Homo sapiens: one gene and its partners. The protein of the gene in region 2 interacts with the protein of the main gene of each other region in a biochemical or structural test. Each region holds a gene or a part of one and is shown on either strand. Other genes may lie near its edges.

Region 1 (3,657 bases), on a different chromosome or scaffold from region 2:
CCCTATCTCTCACCATATAAAAAAATCAAATAAAAATGGATTAAACATTTAAATGTAAGACCTGAAACTATGAAACTACTAGAAGAAAACATTGGAGAAATATTCCAGGACATTGGTCTGGGCAAAGAGATTTTTTGTGGAAGACCTCAAAAGCATAGGCAACCAAACCAAAAATAGAAAAATGGGATTATGTCAAGCTAAAAAGCTTCAGGACAGCCATGGAAACAATCAACAAAGTGAAGAGACAACCCACAGAATAGGAGAAAATATTTGCAAAGTATCAATCTGACGAGGGATTAATAACCAGAATATATAAGGAGCTCAAACAACTCTGTAACAAAAAACCAAATAATCCAGTTTAAAAATGGGCAAAAGATCTGAATAGATATTTCTCAAAAGAAGACATACAAATGGTCAACAGAGATATGAAAAAATGCTCAATGTCACTAATCATCAGAGAAAAGCAAATCAAAATTAAATGAGATATCATTTCATCCCAGTTAAAATGGCTTTTTACAAAAAAAATAGAGAACATCTTTTTTTTTTTTTTTTTTTTGAGATAGAGTTTCACTCCTGTCACCCAGGCTGAAGTGCAATGGTGCAATCTTGACTCACTGCAACCTCCATCTCCAGGTTCAAGCGATTCTCCTGCCTCAGCCTCCTGAGTAGCTGGGATTACAGGCGCCCACCACCATGCCCGGCTGATTTTTGTATTTTTAGTAGAGATGGGGTCTCACCATGTTGGCCAGGCTGGTCTCAAACTCCCAACCTCAGGTGATCCACCAGCCTCGGCCTCCCAAAGTGCTGGGATTACAGGCATGAGCCACTGCGCCTGGCCAAGAATATCTTTTCTGTAAAAAGATGCTGGAGAAGACGTGGAGAAAGGGGAACCCTGATAAACTGTTAGTGGGAATATAAATTAGTACAGCTACTATGGAAAACTGTATGAAGGTTCCTCAAAAAACTAAAAATAGAACTATCATATGATCTAGAAGTTCCACTGCTGGGTATATATCTAAAAGAAAGTAAACCAATATATTGAAGAGATATCTGCCTTCCCATGTTTACTGCAGAGATATTCATAATGGCCAAAATATGAAATCAACCTAAGTGCCCAGAAGTGGATAAATAGATTAAGAAAATGTGATATATATAATATTATTCAGCCATAAAAAGAATGAAATCTTGTCATTTGCAACAACATAGATGGCACCATAGGTCATTTTGTTAAGTGAATAAGCCAAACACAGAAAAACAACTATCGCATGTTCTCACTTACATGTGGGAGCTAAAAAAGTGGATCACATGAAGATAGAGAGTATATTAGTGGTACCAGAGGCCAGGAAGTGTGGGGGGAGGACAAAGAGAGGTTGATGAATGGGTATAAACATACAGTTTGACAGGAAAAATAAGACCTAGGATTCAATAGATCAGTAGGGTGGCTACAGTTTACAATAATCTATTGTATATTTCAAAATAGAAGAGAATAATTTGAATGTTTCTAGCATAAAGAAATATTTGAGGTAAAGGATACCTAATGACATGATTTGATTTTTATAAAATATATGAATGTATTAAATTATCACATGTACCCTGAAAATATGTACATCTGTTATATATCAAAAGAATTTTTTAATTTCATGAATGTATTTAATGCCACTGAATTGTACGCTTAAAATAGTTAAAATGGGAAGTTTCATGTTACACACACATATATACATATTATTTAAAATAGTAAAGACGCTTGTGTTTTAAGCCTCTAAAATAGTGATGAACACAAGGGAGGAAACAGAAGGGGAAGACAGAGGAGAGGGGTATGGAAGGAGAATAGGGAAGTACAGAGTTGCTAAAGGGAATGGAATATGGGTGAAGAAGAAAAACCTTTAAAAGGGATTTTTAGAAAGATTTGCTGTGTAGTATAGATATAAGCCACTTCCTCTGAAATCTTGAGCAAATTCCATATTATTCACCAATTACTTTGGTGCTTGAGTTGCAGTTTTAGTTTTAAGTGCTGACGTGGATGAGAATGGCCTTGAGGCATCCGGATATATTTGGGTCACACTAATCTAAGCAGGAATTTGTGTCACTGTGGCTTTTCTCCATTTGCCCCTCTCCTGACCCCCTTGTCTTCTCATGCCCCTGAGGACACTCTGGGCCCTGAGATGTCCTCCACCCCCATCCTGCCCCTCACCTCCACGCAGCAGTGTGCATCCAGCGGGATAATGCCCCTTTTCTCTTTGCACTCTTCACTCCCAAAGTAGCAGAGGCAGCTGGGCTGCAGCTGGAACCAGCGTTCGGCCCAGTTCCTTCTCAGGTGCCCTCGCTTCCACAGGTAGCCCTGCCAGCCGGAGTTACGTCAGAGGCTTCCCAGGCCCCCCTTCGCCCTGCACCTTGTGTGCTTCCCCTAGTTCCCAGCTTGCCTGACCTGCTTCAGGACATCTTGGATGAGCTCCTGGTAGACCTCGTGGATGGCCATGCTGAGGGTGTCCCGGCCCACGCCCCGCAGGCAGCGGCCCGAATTGAAGAGCTCCAGGAACTGCCAGACGCTGAGCCCCCCGGTGGTCTGGGCCACCTGGGCCTCCTGGGCCAGAAGCTCCTCCAGCTCACCCAAGCTCACCTCCAAGCTCATGCTGCTGAGTACCTTTTTCAGCAGGTATTCCACCTGGAGCAGGAGAAGGAAGGCCTGGTAGCTGCAGCAGGTGGTGTTGCCAGCACCAACACCAGGGAGTGCTCTATCTGGCTCCCAGAGCCTGGGCAGAGGGAAACAGGGGACAGAGCGTTGAGGGGGCCAGAGGACCGAATGTTATGGAGCCAGGGAAAAGACCTGGGAGAGGATCCTGGAGCCCCAACCCCAACTCAGGTTTTCTCTCCCCGTCCACAACCTCCAGTCCCACTCCTTCCTGTCTTAAGGGCAAGGTGAAGGGGACCTGAGATCTGGGGTCCAGAAAGAGGCAATAAATCACAGAAAGTGTCAAGGGAGTGCAAAGGCCCTCTCATCCAATCACTCATTTTGCAGATGACCAAAAAAAAGCCCAAAGGGGGAAGTGACTGGCTCTAAGTCACACAGCAAACTGGGGGCAGCCAGAACCCGATTCTGATCTCCTGAATCCCATTCAGGTCCTTATTCCAAGCCCCAATCCCCAACCCTGGGGATCTTTCCCTTGTGGGAGAGGAAGGGGATTTGGGGTAGGGGTAGGCGTTGGGGAGTGGGGAGTAGAGGTAAGCTGGGCAGGGACAGGAAACCTGTTACAGAGGAACCGGAAGTGGTGGCTGGGGTACATCCTGCTGCAGTTGTTAACTCTGTATGTTGATCGCAGAAGCAAACAACCTCCTGGCCTCCGAGGCCACCTTGCCCTGACTGGCAGGGGTCTAACAAGGGCAGCCAGCCAAGTGTATGTGCAGATGGACACATGTCCCTCACCTGCCCCAGCAGCTTTTTGGGACACTCTGTTTAGGACTTTCTGGGGGATCCTGGGTCTTGTTTGGGTGTTTAGTAGAGGGCACTGGTTCAGGGCTCGGGTGGTTCCCTTCATCACCCTTCCCACAAACAGAAGCCAGGACAAATGTGAGTGGAGCTTGACATGCTAGGGCTTCTTGTAAGTACAGAAGCCCCCTCTCCTGTAAACCCCACTCTAAAGACCTAAAGTCACCCTGGCA
Region 2 (2,657 bases):
GGGGTGTATGGCGTGGGAGGGGTGTATGGCGTGGGAGGGTGTATGGCGTGGGAGGGGTATATGGCGTGGGAGGGGTGTATGGCGTGGGAGGGGTGTATGGCGTGGGAGGCGTGGGAGGGGTGTATGGCATGGGAGGGTGTATGGCGTGGGAGGGGTGTATGGCGTGGGAGGAGTGTATGGCGTGGGAGGGGTGTATGGCGTGGGAGGGAGGGTGTATGGCGTGGGAGGGGTGTATGGCGTGGGAGGGTGTATGGCGTGGGAGGGGTATATGGCGTGGGAGGGGTGTATGGCGTGGGAGGGGTGTATGGCGTGGGAGGCGTGGGAGGGGTGTATGGCATGGGAGGGTGTATGGCGTGGGAGGGGTGTATGGCGTGGGAGGAGTGTATGGCGTGGGAGGGGTGTATGGCGTGGGAGGGAGGGTGTATGGCGTGGGAGGGGTGTATGGCGTGGGAGGGGTGTATGGCACGGGAGGGTGTATGGCGTGGGAGGGGTGTATGGCGTGGGAGGGGTGTATGGCGTGGAAGGGGTTGTATGGCATAGGAGACATGTTGGCCCAGAACCCCCCCCGCCACTTAGGCCTTGGCTCTCCTGTCCATCTCCCCAACCAGACTCGGTGAAATACCTGGAGTGCTCAGCTCTCACCCAGAGAGGCCTGAAAACCGTGTTCGACGAGGCCATCCGGGCCGTGCTGTGCCCTCAGCCCACGCGGCAGCAGAAGCGCGCCTGCAGCCTCCTCTAGGGGTAAGAGTCCCCCACTCTAGTGCCCAACTCCCATACACAGCAGGCCCTGGCTGAGCAGTGGCCTTTGGTTCACTGTGAGTGGCATTTAGGCCAGGACAGAAAGAAGGTGGGTATGGAGGTTGCCTCAGTTTCCGCAGCCTACTTGTCATCTGCCTGGGCCAGTCTCACTCTCTGGAGCTCATCTTCCAGAGGCAAGGCCCAAGGTATGAATGAATGCCTGGTAACCCCCCACCCCCGGGCCAGGGAGTGGGTGTCACGGAGCCCCACTCTGCCCATTCCTGCAGGAGGTGATGGAAAAGATGCCTTGGTCCCTGGCCCTAGGAGAGCCCAGTCGAGCCAGGGAGATCCTGCACCCACATATGTGGGTGGAGGTGGGAGAGCCTGAGCTATGATCCCCAGGGGGCAGATGGTGGGGTCAGTGAGTTGGAGGCAGCCCACAAGGCCTCCTGGAGGTGTGGGACCAGAAGGACAGAGAGGACTGGTGAGGTGGGGAGAGCAGCATTGGCAGTCCTGGTGGGAGTCAAACCTTGAGCAAAGACCTGGAGGTGGGAATGAGCTGTGAGCCAGGAAGGCGAGAGCTGTGGATTCTGCATGTCCCCAAATTCTCTTTCCCTGCTTATCTTCCTTCCAGGTTGCACCCCAGCGCTCCCACCTAGATGGGTCTGATCCTCCAGGATCCCCACCCAAAGCCTGATGGCACCCCGGCTGGCCATGCTGTCCCCTCCCTGTGGCGTTTCTTAGCAGATGGCTGCAGAGCTTCGTTGATGGTCTTTTCTGTACTGGAGGCCTCCTGAGGCCAGGAACGTGCAAATTTGCAGGTGCTGCATCCCAAGCCCCTCATGCTCCTGCCTTCCTGAGGGCCAGAGGGGAGCCCCAGGACCCATTAAGCCACCCCCGTGTTCCTGCCGTCAGTGCCAACTGCCGCATGTGGAAGCATCTACCCGTTCACTCCAGTCCCACCCCACGCCTGACTCCCCTCTGGAAACTGCAGGCCAGATGGTTGCTGCCACAACTTGTGTACCTTCAGGGATGGGGCTCTTACTCCCTCCTGAGGCCAGCTGCTCTAATATCGATGGTCCTGCTTGCCAGAGAGTTCCTCTACCCAGCAAAAATGAGTGTCTCAGAAGTGTGCTCCTCTGGCCTCAGTTCTCCTCTTTTGGAACAACATAAAACAAATTTAATTTTCTACGCCTCTGGGGATATCTGCTCAGCCAATGGAAAATCTGGGTTCAACCAGCCCCTGCCATTTCTTAAGACTTTCTGCTGCACTCACAGGATCCTGAGCTGCACTTACCTGTGAGAGTCTTCAAACTTTTAAACCTTGCCAGTCAGGACTTTTGCTATTGCAAATAGAAAACCCAACTCAACCTGCTTAAGCAGAAAATAAATTTATTGATTCAAGTTTGGAGATATCGTGATTTCAGGTGCAGCTTGATCAAGGTATTCAAATGATGTCATCGAGGCTTGTTTAGCTCTGGGCTCTGCCTTCTGCTGGCTGGTTCATTCTCAGGCAGGCGACTTAGGGCTTCATCCTCCCAAGTTCAAGTTCAGGGTTTCATCCTTCCAAGTTCAAGTTCAGGGCCTCATCCTTCCAAGTTCAAGTTCAGCCAAAAAGAGCAAATGTCTATCCCAGGCAAAGTTCTAACTAAGATTTACTGTGATTGGACCAGCTTAGGTCCTGGGCCCCCTTTTAACCAATCATATTTGTCAGAGTGGTGCAGTGCTGTGCTCTGACTGGCCAGGCATGGACCATATGCCATGCTGGAACAGAACTGCGGCAACCCCAGCGAAAGCGTGTGTACTGGGGGGGAGGGTGAGTTCCAAAGTGGGCTGAGAGCCTGGCGGGAATTTGGGAATTTGGGCGAGAAACCCTCAACCTCCACTACTGGAGGTCATGGGAAAGTGTTCATTTCAGC
Region 3 (3,657 bases), on a different chromosome or scaffold from region 2:
CCACCAACATCTAATTAGGTGGGCACAAGTAATGGAGCAACAAAACAAACTGAAAATAAAAACAAGTCAAAGATAGGAGAAGCAGGAAAGAGCAATGTCTAGTTGCCCTCTGGACATTTCCACCTAGAATGCATCTCTAAAAACCACTCAGACTGAATCTAATCCTGCACTTTTTTCTCCTGTATTGGTTAATAGTACCACAGTTCACAAGGTTGCCCAGTAATTTATGTTGTTCCTAAGCTCTTTGCTCTCTGTAATCCTTTTACATTTAATTAATCATCAAATTTGATGGATTCCACCTTTTTAATGTTGCTTCAGACTTTCCCACTTATTCTGCTCTAGTTCAGGCCCTTCCTTGTTTTTCAACTGGACAATTGTAGTAGTCTCCTAACTGGTCTTTTGTCTGTATTATAACCTGCCAACAGAGTTTTTCTTTTTGTTTGTTTGTTTTTGTTTGTTTTGTTTTTTTGTTTTTCTGAGACGGAGTCTCGCTCCGTCACCGAGGCTGGAGTGCAGTGGCGCGATCTCGGCTCACCGCAACCTCCACCTCCGGGGGTCACGCCATTCTCCTGCCTCAGCCTCCTGAGTAGCCGGGACTACAGGCGCCCACCACTATGCCCGGGTAATTTTTTTTTTTATTTTTTGGTATTTTTTGCAGAGACGGGGTTTTGAACTCCTAGGCTCAAGCGATCTGCCCGTCTTAGCCTCCCGAAATGCTGGGACTACAGACGTGGGCCACCATGCCCAGCCTTATCTTTTATTTTTATTTTTTAATATAGATAGGGTCACACTTTGTTGACCAGGGTGGTTTCAAACTCCAGGCCTCAAGGAATCCCCCTTGGCCTCCCCAAAGTGCTGGGATTACAGGTGTGAGCCACTGCACCCAGCCTCCTCTCTTTCAAAAAACATTTATTGAGCTATAATATACATACAGTAGCCGGGCGCAGTGGCTCACGCCTGTAATCCCAGCACTTTGGGAAGTTGAGGCAGGTGGATCACGAGGTCAGGAGTTCGAGAGCAGCCTGGCCAATATAGTGAAACCCCATCTCTACTAAATATACAAAAAAATTAGCCAGGCGTGGTGGTGCATGCCTGTAATCCCAGCTACTCGAGAGGCTGAGGCAAGAGAATTGCTTGAACCTGGGAGGTGGAGGTTGCAGTGAGCCGAGACGCGCCATTACACTCCGGCCTGGGTGACAGAGCGAGACTACGTCTCAAAAAAAAAAAAAAAAAAAAAAAAAATATATATATATATATATATATGATTTTATATATATATGATTTTATATATATATGATTGTGTATATATATATGATTTTGTATATATATATGATTTTGTATATATATATGATTTTGTATATATATGATTTTGTATATATATATGATTTTGTATATATATACACACGCACACATACACACATAAAGTGCTTAAAGTACCCTAATCGTAAGTTTTCTACTTGATGAATTTTAACATATATATGTTAAAATATATATTAAATATGTGTTAAATATATATTAAAATGTATATGTTAAAATATATATATTTATCTGTGTGACTATCCCCCAGATTAAGATATAGAACATTCCCACAACCCTAGAAAGTTCTTTCATGCTCCTTCCCCATCAGTACCCACCCCCAAGTTATATTCTGGCTTCTATTACCATAGATTAATTTTGTTTATTACCATAGATTAGTTTTGAAGTTCTTATAAATGGACTCATGCAGTAGGTACTCTTTTGTGTCATAATGATGAATTATGATTATGTTTTGCTCATTATATCTATGAGATCCATCCATATTGTCTGTGGCAATAGTTTTTTTTTTTTTTCTTGCTGTGTAGCGTATGAATATACCACAATTTATGTATCTGTTCACCTGATGATGGACATTTGAGTTGTTTCCAGTTTGGGGCTATTATAAATAACACTACTATGAATACTCTTGTGCATATCTTTGGCAGAGATATACACTCATTTTTAATACCCAAGAGTGGAATTGATGAGTCAGAGGGTATAAGTGTCCTCTCCTAGCACTTCCCTACACATGCTGTGTTCCTACTTTAAGTATCATAAAAACAAGTTTCCATTGACTTTCTTGCTTTATTCAGTCCTACCCGCTCTGCTACAGAAACGAAGTTTGAGAGCTAGGAAATTGACACATTCAAGGTTATAGACTGGGACTTCCCTGATTTCCCATCATTTTCCCCAAATAATTGCTAGTGACTCAGTAACAACATCCACTCTTTAAGTAACTTAGGTTAATTGTTAATGAGTACAGCTAGATTCAAAACAGTTCAGATTTTTGAAGCACTTAACCTTTTTCTTGCCTATTTTACCTTGCATCGTTTCAAACACTACAAAATACATACTCATTGCATTTACAATTAATTGTAAGATTCTGAAAGTGATTTTTCAGTGCCTGAATACTTCAAAAAATCTTCCCAAAGCAGCTTTGCTTTGCTGGTTTGTTTTTATTCTTTCGCTTGCTCCTTAATTTTTTCATTTTAACTATATTTTGCTATTGAGTTGTGATAATGAAAATAATTGTTTAAATTCTATGTTCTTTTTCCTCACCAATTTTTATTTCAGATGATACCATCTTCCAAAATCCTATGGTACAAGAAGCTATACGAATGGGGTTCAGTTTCAAGGACATTAAGAAAATAATGGAGGAAAAAATTCAGATATCTGGGAGCAACTATAAATCACTTGAGGTTCTGGTTGCAGATCTAGTGAATGCTCAGAAAGACAGTATGCAAGATGAGTCAAGTCAGACTTCATTACAGAAAGGTATGCATTGCTGTTTTTAAAAAGCAAGAAAGGGCCAGATGTGGTGGCTCATACCTGTAATCCCAGCACTTTGGGAGGCTGGGACAGGTGGATATGGACATTTTTTAAACGTAACCTTAATGCTGTGTGTTAGTCTGCTCAAGCTGCTATAATAAAATTCCATAGACTAGGTGTCTTAAACAACAGACTTATTTCTGACAGTTTTGGAGGCTCCAAAATCAAGGTGCTGGCTGATTTGGTTATTGATGAGGGCCCTCTTCCTACCTTGCAGATGGCTGCCTTCTCACTGTGTCCTCACATGGCATGGGTTGGGATTGGATGGGACAAGATGGAGCAAGTACTCTGGTCTCTTTTCCTCTACTTTTAGGAACACTAATCCCATCATGGGGGGGTCTCATCTTCATGACCTCATCTAAACCTAATTACTTCCCAAAGGCCTCATTTCCAAATATCATTACATTAATCATGGAAAAAAGATTAAAAATATGAGTTCTACCAGCCTGGACAACATAATGAAACTGTCTCTACAAAAAATACAAAAATTAGCCGGGCATGGTGGTGTGTGCCTGTAGTCCCAGCTCCTTGGGAGGCTGAGCGGGGAAGATCACCTGAGCCAGGGAGGTCAAGGCTGCAGTGAGCCATGATCATGCCACTACACTTCGGCCTGGGCAACTGAGCAAGATCTTGTCTCAAAATATATGTATCTCTCCTTTAAGGATGATGGACACTGTAGTGCTTGCCAACAACATCGAAGGTTAAAGAAGAAGTTTCAAACTGAGTACACTTTTGGGTACTTTACCTGTAATAGTTCTCTAAGCTCTTGACCATCCTCCCTCCAAAAAGATGAGAATTCTCCTACTGCTAAAA

Evidence for each region.
Region 1: the proteins of RAC2 (region 2) and DEF6 form a complex in vitro, tested with the Homo sapiens proteins (one study listed by BioGRID).
Region 3: the proteins of RAC2 (region 2) and XIAP form a complex in vitro, tested with the Homo sapiens proteins (one study listed by IntAct).

What each region holds. Positions count from the first base shown.
Region 1 is NC_000006.12:35,311,307-35,314,963, reverse strand, and holds part of DEF6 (differentially expressed in FDCP 6 homolog), read right to left. Parts: intron 2,751-3,657; coding exon of another isoform or gene 2,663-2,750; coding exon 2,426-2,662; intron 2,339-2,425; coding exon 2,192-2,338; intron 1-2,191.
Region 2 is NC_000022.11:37,224,755-37,227,411, reverse strand, and holds the end of RAC2 (ras-related C3 botulinum toxin substrate 2), read left to right. Parts: intron 1-608; coding exon 609-739; 3' UTR 740-741; intron 742-1,372; 3' UTR 1,373-2,142; downstream 2,143-2,657. UniProt on the Homo sapiens protein: Plasma membrane-associated small GTPase which cycles between an active GTP-bound and inactive GDP-bound state.
Region 3 is NC_000023.11:123,897,904-123,901,560, forward strand, and holds part of XIAP (E3 ubiquitin-protein ligase XIAP), read left to right. Parts: intron 1-2,589; coding exon 2,590-2,790; intron 2,791-3,657.